2 separate regions of the Homo sapiens genome follow, and region 2 is linked to region 1. The links come from fine-mapping of genetic effects on gene expression. A gene starts in region 1. The other region holds a variant in brackets. All regions are shown on one strand. Distances are from middle to middle. Region 1 holds the start of TIAM2 (TIAM Rac1 associated GEF 2). Region 2 overlaps TIAM2 (TIAM Rac1 associated GEF 2).

What was found.
Region 2: its variant is fine-mapped to the expression of TIAM2 in whole blood (INTERVAL, PIP above 0.99).

Annotation. Positions count from the first base shown.
Region 1 is chr6:154,993,075-154,998,445 of GRCh38, reverse strand. It overlaps TIAM2 (TIAM Rac1 associated GEF 2), which reads right to left and starts at 3,131. Exons shown (of 27, transcript NM_012454.4): 1 at 2,954-3,131. RefSeq lists enhancers at 2,024-2,629, 2,630-3,237 and silencers at 2,874-2,953, 3,044-3,183.
Region 2 is chr6:155,220,244-155,225,614 of GRCh38, reverse strand. All of the region lies in intron 15 of TIAM2 (TIAM Rac1 associated GEF 2), which reads right to left. Among named protein-coding and RNA genes, the nearest start is that of CLDN20, 41 kb to the left of the region's middle. RefSeq lists enhancers at 662-1,861, 4,671-5,170. The variant A/G (reference allele first, on the strand shown) is at 2,352.

The DNA of each region.
Region 1 (5,371 bases):
TTTTTCATGCATAAAACTGTGATATTAAATACTGATCTCATTGGAGATCCTAAATAAATCAGACTCAAACCCTTCTTACTTTCTTAGTTTAATTCTGTGACATCTCACTTTAGGATGGCTTAAATTCTTATATACAAAACGGCACTCCAATGCAATTTATTAGCACATGTTTATGCGAGCAAAGCTCTTTAGGGCCTTACTTGCAAGTTTCTTGCCCCCTTATCTCTCTTAGCAAATCACGATTAGACACGTAAACCTGAGTGGCTAGAAAAGTCATCAGCTGACAAAGCACCACATGTTGACACAAATCCCTGACGCCCACCCATGAATTCACACTCGCAGATTCTTCCCTGTAATCAAGGAGAAGACATCTGTCTAAGCATCATTTGAACAGCCCAGACATAAGATAAAGCAAACTGAAGCAGATTTCTGTATACTGACTTATACAAAAAAAATCTGCCCCCAAACTCTTACTTCTTTCTAGAGTTCGTGAGAAGTAATCTTTTCTGGCCGGACACGGTGGCTCATGCCTACAATCCCAGCACTTTGGGAGGCTGAGGAGGGTGGATCACTTGAGCTCAGGTGTTTGAGACCAGCCTGGGCAACATGGCGAAACCCCCTCTCTACAAAATGTTTTTAATTAGCCAGGTGTGGTGGCACGCGTCTGTAGTCCAGCTACTTGGAAGGCAGAGAAGGAAGATCAATTGAGCTGGGGAGGCTGAGGCTGCGGTGAGCTGAGATCATATCACTGCACTCCAGCCTGGTCAACAAAGGGAGATCCTGTCTCAAAAAAAAAAAAAAAAAAAAAAAAAAAAATCCATTCTTTCTTCACTCGTTCACGGAACCTAGGAACCTTAACTGAGCTCCTATTACATCAGTTGAAGTGATGGATGCTAAGTACAGTAGTGGGGATAGGCTTAGGGTCACTACTAACCCATACTGTACTTTTGGTTAAATTGCCAAATGTATCCTCTCCAATGGAGAGGAGCGCACTAGAGGCTTGGCAAGTGGAGTGTGAATCGGATTTCAGCCTCCAATTGCCTGTTGGACAAGATGACCTTGTGTAGTGAACAGCCTGAACAACTGTGCAAGGTGGCAGTGCCAGAGGTATATACAAAAATGTGTTCTAGTAGAAGCACTGACTACTGGAGGAGGAGGAGCTTAACTTCGCCTACGGATAAGGAAGAAAAGCTTCCTAGAGAAGGTATTTGACTGACACATTAAGAATGCGTGGGTAATTGACAGATGGGCAAGAGGAGTAAGAACAGTGTAAGCAGAATTTCATTCATTCCAAACAATGGTCTGGAAATAACAACTTCTGAGTAGCTTGGTGTGTCTAGAGCAGGCAGTGTGCAAGCGGGGGAGAGCCAGGAGGCCTGGGGAAAGTCAGTAGATGGAACTGGAAAGGCAGGCAGGTGCCACATTATGAAGCATCTTAGTATGGTATGTGAAGGTGTTGAAAGCTGATTCTGAGGTCATTAGGGGCGTGTTTTGCCACAGTAAATAATAAACTCTTCTTCAGTTATACCTTGCCATGTTCTTTTACATTTACCCAACACAAAAACCTCTGACACCCTAAAGCAACAAGTTTTATTTTCCTATAAAGTGAGCAGGTAAAATCCGGTGGAACAAAAGTTTGCTTACAAAACTGCACCAATCATGATACTATATTTTTAAAACATAACAATCTTAAGCACATCAGGAAATACTTCTAAGAGTGTATACACACAAGTTCTACTGGTTAAGCCCAAATTATAAAACCATGGACACTTTTTTATCCAGAGCCTAGGACTGAAACATTTATAGCATATGATCCGCACCTGTACGAAACTTGGTAAGATTTTAGAGACACTCTGGCTTAAATCTATTGGAAAGAGAACTGGAGATAGCCGGTGTTGTCTGTTAAAATAAGGTGGTCAGCATCATTTGGGGAGCAAAAGGTAGAATGTGTGAATAACCATGAGAAGAGAATCCCAGGCCCTTCATCGCATAGTAAATAAAGGTCTCACCATTACCCAAGGAGGCTGAGGAGTGTCACCAAGTGGCCTCTTGCCTGAATTCTGCAGAGAAAAGCAGGAAAACCTCCCCCTGAATGAAATTATCTTTGGAATCAAGCAGCCTTCTCCCTCTTTAAATAAAGTTAACCTATTTGTCTATTTTAAAAAAACGGCATGCAAGCTCATCAATATTAAATTTCGCCGCTCCTTAAAGATAGAAATACCTCGTGCAATGTTACTCCCAGACCTTTCCAGCGGCTGTCAGCAACGAATGGCTGGAAGAATGGACTCTTTTCTTTCTGAACTGTTTTTGGTAAATAGGATCCATTAGGGGCACAACGTGTCGGCTTTCACAGAAACTTGGCACCTCAGCCCCCCCAGGAGCCGCGCCCGTCCGGGATGGCTCCCGCGCTCGGAAAGGCCGGAGGGGCTGAGCAGGGACCGCACGGTCTACACTCGCTGAGCCGACCGCCTGGGATCCTGCTTCGCCGCAGCGCCTTTCTGAGGCTCCGAGGTCGCCGGGCGGGCGTGGGCGCAGCGGGCGCTCCCCTCCGGGCACCCACGGCTCGGCTTTGGGCGAGAACCTCGGTATCAGGAGGCCGGGGCGCCGCCTCCTCCCATCCGGGATGGGACCGGGGCTGAAAGTGGGTCCTGGCGTGTCGCGCAGCGCGAGGGGACCAGGGGACCTAGTTTCAGAGCCTTCTGGAAAGTGCTTCGTCCCCCGTGCCAGGCTGTGCCCGGACGCTGCCGCCCTCCGGGGAGAGGGTGCCAGGCCGCGCCCCGCAGCCGCGACCTTCCGCGGGACTCCCAGGAAAGCGGGGGCAGAGAGGGGCGGCCAACAAAGGGGAAGGGAGGGGACCGCCGGCCGCGCGCCGCCCCGCCCGCAGGGGACCTGGAGCCGCCGCCAACCAGCGCGGGTCGTCGCCCTCCTGCGCCCTCACCCGGGCGCCCCTTACCTCGGGTCGCGCGCCGGGCTCGGTGGGGCCGGTCGCGCGCCGCCCTCCGCTACCCTCGGCGCGTGGCCCTCGCGGGAACGCCGGGAGGAGTTGGAGAAGTTCTGGGGGTCACTTTGTTCTCCACTTGGACGCGCGCTGTGCGCCTGCGGCGGCCGCGGCCACAGTTACGGTTACCGCTGCCCCAGCCCCGCGCGCAGCGCCTGCCAGGCCCGAGCCGCGACCGCACCTCCCGCCCCGCCCCGCCCCGGACACGCCCCAGCCCCGCCCAGCGTCAGGCCCAGGACCCCCGCGCCAGCTCCCGGCTGGTCCCGGACCATGTCCCTCGCGCTTTCTTTGGAACAACACAAATAAAACAATTCAAGAAACATCGAGCACGCGCTCACTGTGAGCTGGGGGCTCTGCCCGCTACCGGGGATGCGATGCGCCAGTGCGACCCCGTCCCTTCCCCAAGGAATTTAAAGACGGCTCTTCCCGGGTCCCACCGAGGAAAGGCACGCAAAACTGAGGTCAGCGGCCGCAGAGACTTTCCATCTCCTTCCCCTTCTGAGAGGAGATGGCTTCGCAGCGGAGATGGCAATCGAGTCGGCACTCCAAGACCCAGTCGAATTGGGACTTTCCAGGTGGAGAAGCTGCGATTTTTATTATTATTTTTTCAGACTGAGTTTCGCTCTTGTTGCCCAGGCTGGAGTGCAATGGCGTGATCTCGGCTCACCGCAACCTCCGCCTCCTGGGTTGAAGCGATTCTCCTGCCTCAGCCTCCCGAGTAGCTGGGACTACAGGCACGCGCCACCACGCCCGGCTAATTTTGTATTTTTAGTAGAGATGGGGGTTTCATCATGTTAGTCAGGCTGGTCTCGAACTCCCGACCTCAGGTGATCCACCCGCCTCGGCCTCCCAAAGTGCTGGGCTTACAGGCGTGAGCCACCGCACTGGGCCAAAGCTGCGATTTTTATTAGAAAAGCCTGAGTGGCCCAGTGGGCCCAGATGCTGGGAAGGGCGAGGGAGCTAAGGAGACCCAGGAATGAAAGCTGCCTGGAATCACTCTCCTCGCCTTGAAAAAGGCTGCACCCTGGAGAGGAGAGGGAAGGGAAGGTAGATGCAGGCCATGTGTTAGGGTGGGTCCTACGAGAAGCAGCGCCCACTCAGGACTAGATGCGGAGGGTTTTCTTGGGGGAAATGGCCGTGGAACTAAATGAGGAGGGAGCCGTGAGAGCTGGAGAGGGCCGGACCTTCTGCAAATCAGAGCCCAAGTGAAGGAGGGAGGGAAGCACCCATCCCGGCCTCCCTGCAGTCTAAGAAAAGCTCAGCAAGATCATCCGTGAGCCCTTCAGCCAAAATTACGCATCATGGGGATCCCGATTCTCCCCGGAACCTGCCTGCCTTCGTGTCCATGCCGCCACCAGTCCTTGGCTGGGAGCGGCCAGGTGGGAAGGGTGGCGTTGGGCACAATCCCAGTGCTGGAGTTCAGAGCACAGCAGCCAGGGCCCTGGTCAGTTAGGTGCAGTGCGTGAATACGACCCAGTCTCCGTAACGGGAGATCCGTGGAGAACTGTGAGTCAAAAAGACAAATGAAATCAGCTTTCCCACAACACACCCAGTATCAAAAGGAAGCCTCCAGGCTTTGCGGGGATCGGACAGACCTGCTCTCCACCCTCAACCACCACAGGCTCTGTACACACCGAACTAGTAGTGACTGGCCCCTCCCACTCTGTAGGCCCTCCCCTGGTCTTGTCTGCATCTTTGCGCACTTGGCTCTGCCTAGGAAAATATCTTCCCACTCCACTCACTCTTCCATGCTCAATTCAAGCATCACCTCCAAAGACCTTTTCTTCCTTGACATTTATTTACTGTTTTGTGGGTGGGGTGGGGGGGGGCGGTGCTTGCTTTGTTTTGAGATGGAGTCTGTCTCTGTCGCCCAGGCTGGAGTGCAGCGGCACGATCTCAGCTCGCTCAACCTCCACCTCCCGGGTTCAAGTGATCCTGCCTCAGCCTCCCAAGTAGCTGGGACTACAGGCATGCACCGCCACACCCAGATAATTTCTGTACTGTTAGTAGACACGGAGTTTCACCATGTTGGCCAGGCTGGTCTCGAACCCCTGACCTCTAGTGATCTGCCCACAGCCTCCCAAAGTGTTGGGATTAGGGTGTGAGCCATGGCGCCCGGCCAACACTTATTTACTTCTTACTTCTGACTCACACCTACCACACTGAGACGGGGGGTGGGGGGGTGCTGGTATGTGTTTATTTTTCTTGCTTCTTTTATTGCATTTTTCGCACTATTTTAAAATATTTTTCTGATTATAAAAGTAACATGTTTGTTGTACAAACTTGAAAAAATATATAGAACCCAGATGGCTCTAATTCCTCTCCTCTTGTGAGACACCATCCCTTGACAGCCAAGTAACCAGAGTCTGAGCT
Region 2 (5,371 bases), 230 kb before region 1:
CCAGGTATCCCTGGTGGTGAGAAGAGCTGGGGATCTAGAGAAGGCAGCAGAACCAGGACACTCAGGCAAGAAAAAGATGGAAGAGACAGAGTGAGGGTGACAGAATGTGAACAGAGACTTTCTTTAAAGCCCCACACTTAGAAGTTACCTGTAAGCCTCACGTTGTATTACTGCTTGATGGTCCACCTTTCCCCATCTTGGTAACTCATCTGTATAAGCCCCAAATTCAAGACCTCGGTGCTCAAATGAGAGGAAGGCAGAGCACCAACCTGTCCTGATGGGTGTGTCACCCGGGCCCTCAGACTGCCCTTTATCTATGCCTGAATGAACCAAGAAGGGAATAAACTCTTAAAAATCCCAGCTGAGTGCATTGGCTCATGCCTGTAATCCCAGCACTTTGGGAGGCCGAGGTGGGTGGATCATCTGAAGTCAGGAGTTCGAGACAAGCCTGGACAACATGTCAAAACCCCATCTCTACCAAAAATACAAAAATTAGCTGTGTGCAGTTGTGCATGCCTGTAATCCCAGCTACATGCGAGGCTGAGGTGGGAGAACTGCTTGAACCTGGAAGGCAAAGGTTGCAGTCAGCCAAGATCGCACCATTTCACTCCAGCTTGGGTGACAGAGCGAGACCCATCTCAAACAAACAAACAAACAAATAAATAGAAAATCCCAAAACCAGCTGAGAGTGGCATGCAAGGTAGGAAGATGGCAGGACTCCTCCAGGCATGCAGCATTTGTGGTTTCTGAGCAGTTGGTGATGAAATCCCCGCTGTGCAGATGCCAGGCCAGAACCTTCTAAGCAACTGCACATCTCAGAGCCTCCTCCTCTGCCAGCTGTTTTCTGAAAACACCAGAGGACTCAGGTGGCAGCAAAGAATGAGAGAGCGCAAAGGCAGGTGAATAGCAGAGGCGGCAGCATGCGCTGGAGGCTGAACAAACACAGTCGGGGTGTGGAAGGGGCAAGAACCAACGAAAGGATGAAAGAGGGAAAGAGAATTGGGGGTGCCTTTAAAACAAACCTCCATTCTCCTCCTTCCTTCCATACTAATGACACATCCATGTTTTTCTTGCCCTTTTCTTCATGTTATTATCAAGACAGCAGGAGACGGATTTACAAAACGAATGATCCCATCTTAACCTTCAGCAGTTAGAAGCTAGTGTTTGAGATGGTGAAAATACCATCATGTGTACCTGGATGAAGCACTTCCAGGCAGAGTTTTTCCATGACCCCTCCTCCCTCAACTCCAGACACATCTACTCATGACACACACATCTACTCTTAGCTGAGTCTATAGAGGAAATTGCAAAATGACTCAGAACAATTTCTCACAACTTACTTTTGCAAAAGCAAAAGCAGCCACCACTGTGGAGCCGGAACTTTATCACAAGGTGAGAATCTGCTATGAGTCATGAAAGGCACAGAAAATGCCTTGAAACTCAAACACATCTTCTTTCACTCAGTACAAGGTTTTCATTGGACTACAATCTCTACGCAAGAATATTGACAGAAGGCAGCCAGGTGACGATTTCAGAACTTTGAACAATGGCAAGCATCTGAGCAGGCCTCGGTGAAGGGGATTTAATGAGTGAATGAATAATGCGACACTACACCCACCCCCCTGGGTAAATATTAAAGATCGGATGAGATTCCAGGCACCCACACAGTGGCAAGCCAAAATTAGATAGTAATTGTGCCTATTACTTCTTTAAAAGAAAAAGGGCGAACGACAACAAGGGCTTAGCTAATTTGCTGACATGGAAAGGGGAAGGGTGAAATTCACTGGCAACGCCCTTGCCGGGGAACACAGGAGCCACAGCCACCTGAGCGTCCCTTACGCTGAGCATAAAAAACACCCCTCCTAGTCCATCAGACAGCTATTTATTTTACTAAAGAGATCCATAAAAGTTTGGTTTGGGATCAAAATGTTAAAATTCTTACTCCAAAAAAAAACCCATTTTGTTCACTAATGATAGAAAATAAAACTTTCAAAATGCCAAAACATCCCAGCACGTAATGCTGCGATTGGTGTTTAACAACCTGGGTTTGCATCCATTGAAGTGCAGAGTAAAAAAAAAAAAAAAAAGAAAAAAAAATCTGGGGATGTCTAACCACCATCATCAATATAATCTATTCTGGTCTCAACCTAATAATTTATTTGCCATCTAGGGGTTGTTATTTATTTAACGTTCCTCAACATCTCTTAGCACATTAAAAAAATAAAGCATTAATAGCTAATCTCACCCAAGCAATTAGACTAAGATAAAAACAAAGTTCAAAATATCACTTGACTATATAAACACAGTGCTGTTCATATTGCAGGTACTTGATAACTGATTCTGCAATATCA[A/G]TAATATTAAGACACAGGCTAGGCTATTCAGATGTTTACTCAAAGTAAGGATCACAAACTGACGGTTCATAAATTCCTAACAGGGAAAGCTGTGAATAAACATCGTAAGACTGGGGAGCTCCCTGGAATTGTCTGCAATTTCTAACGTATGTGCATAAGCAATCTTCTGGGGACCCATAGCTTTCCTCAGATTCTCAAATGGTCTGCTTGAAATAAGTTCCTAAATAACGTAAGTGCATAAAAGAGCAGAGAGCATCTGGAAATACGGTATCTAACCATCCTGACCTTCGCATACCATTACCTGAGAAGCCTCCAAAAATCTTACAGGTTTTAGCTTCAATGAAATGCATGAAGGACAATAAACGACCGAAGCAAATTCTAATAGGGTTCTGCTAAGATTCTTCTTCTAAGCAGCTCTCCATATTCATGGGGATAAAAAGGGATATCTAGCAGAAAGCTGCTTTGGATCAGGCATTCAGGCAGAAAGACAGACAGGGAGAGACATCAGGGCAGGACAGCTGGTCAGACGGACCCTTGAGTTTCACAGATAGGGAAGTTTGACAACTTACCCAAGGATGAAGAAACGGCTCCTCAGTGTAAGACTTAGGGCAAAAAACCCATGGTTTTTTTTGTGTTTTTTTTTTTTGTTTGTTTTTTGTTTTTGAAACAGAGTCTTGCTCTGTCATCCAGGTTGGAGTACAGTGGTGCAGTCTTGGCTCACTGCAACCTCTGCCTCCTGGGCTTAAGCAGTTCTCATGCCTCAGCCTCCCGAGTAGCTGGGATTACAGGAACGAGCCACAATGCCTATCTAATTTTTGTATTTTTAGTAGAGATAGGGTCACACCATGTTGGCCAGGCTGGTCTTGAGCTCCTGGCCTCAAGTGATCCACCAGCCTCAACCTCCCAAAGTGCTGGGACTACAGGCGTGAGCCACGCCCACCCAACCCATGTGTTCTTACTCCGAGTGTACCCCATGTCGAGGTGGCTTCCCCAAAGAATAGGCAAGAACAGGCCGGGTGTGGTGGCTCACGCCTGTAATCCCAACACTTTGGGAGGCTGAAGAGTGTGGATCACCTGAGGTCAGGAGTTTGAGACCAGCCTGGCTAACATAGTGAAACCCCGTCTCTAGTAAAAATACAAAAATTAGCTGGGCATGGTGGCGTGCACCTGTGGTCCCAGGTACTGAGGAGGCTGAGGCATAAGAATTGCTTGAACCCGGGAGGCAGAGGCTACAGTGAACCAAGATCGCGCCACTGCACTCCAGCCTGGGCAACAAAGTGAGACTCCCTCTCAAAAAAACAAAAATAAATAAATAAATAAGAAGAAGAATAGGCAAGAACCTGCAAATGGTATTTACACTGAGGCTAGTTTGGCCTGAGAAATCAAACTTCCTGCTTTCTTCTCCCACAGAAAGCAAAATTATATCAAGGTCTCCATAGCTCCATCTCTAATTCAGAAGCCCAGAAAGGAAATAAAGATCTGGAAATAGAGGGCTGAGGGGCATGGAGAGGGAAGATGGAAGAAAGAGGACAGACATGGGACACTTGCCGTTCAACCCCATCTTCACTGTCATCCAGGTGGACAAAATTAAAGGGGAGACCTCAAGCAGCTCTGGCAAGAGGTCCCTTACGACCACCTAAGTTGCAGGGAGCTGGCTGATGACTCCTTGAACTTGGCTTTCTGTTTGCCTTGAAAAGGTCAAACATATCCCACTTCAAGTGTCATCTCAGACAGGATGAGAGCAAAACCATGGCACCCGCTGTTTCAATGGAGAGAAAAAGGAGAAGCCTGTATCAGAAATAAACGTGGCAAATAAAGCATTAGGTGAAGATCAGCATCTCTGCTCAGTCAAATCTTTGTGTGGCCTCAGCTCTGAGTAGTCTCCAAGTCACTTTCCTGTGCATCACTGTCCCAGCAGGATGAGGAACGGGAGTGTCATTATCTCTTCAGCAAGTTAATTTCAGAGCCAGCATTCCACCTGACAGGCCCTGATCCTCCAGCCCACCCCAGCGCAGTGATTCACACTGCAGCTCTCACAGCGCTGCTCTCTAAAACTTCTCTTTTTTACTTCTTTATTTTGTGATTCTGAAGATGACTCTGAATAATAACTTGTGTTTTTTTTTGTTTTTTTTTTTTTCAAAAAAAAAAAAAAACAAGATGAAAGAGAAAAGTCTGGAAAAGAAGAAAGCAGGGACAGAGGAAGGCAGGTAGGAAAGTACTGTGGCACAGAAAACAGCAGGGGAAAGAACCAAACACCACATGTCTCGTAAGTGGAAGCTGAACAATGAGAACCATGGACACAGGGAGGGGAACATCACACACCGGGGCCTGTAGTGGAGGTGGGGAGCTAGGAGACGGATAGCGTCAGGAGAAATACCTAAGGTAGATGATGGGTTGATGGGTGCAGCAAACCAGCGTGGCACATGTATACCTATGTAACAAACCTGCACATTCTGCACATGTATCCCAGAACTTAAAGTATAATAATAATTTTAAAAAGAGGTAAGACACGCTTGATTATTTTCTATAACTTCAAGTTTAAAACGATGTCTTCTTTTTGTCCCTAGTTTGTAATGCAAATCCCTATTTTTTCATTAAACTCTTCTCTGCCAAAAAAAAAGAGGCTGGGAAGCCAGTTGTGCTGACGAAAGTGCCTCAGTGATCCAAAGACAGAAAGGAAAGGGGAAGAAGGGCAATTGGTGACCTCCCTGCATCCTTCCAACCTCACTGTGTGCTAGGTGCCATCATCCTTACTTTCCAGATCAGGATCAGGAGACACAAGCACTGGTGGGGCCAGGCTGGCCCAGGGCTCCTGGGGTTCTTACTGTGCAGCCCGCCAGGCCTCCAGACCAGCCTCGCCAGGCTCAAGTCCCCCTGCCTTGCATGATACTCTGCTCCTAGACATACGTGTATTCCATGTTTAATAGAGAAAACACAGGCCCTCTGCCACAGCTGCAGGCAGACTCTGAGCCCCAGCCAAAGTCTCGTTCAATAACTCAACACCCCATGTCTGAGTTTTA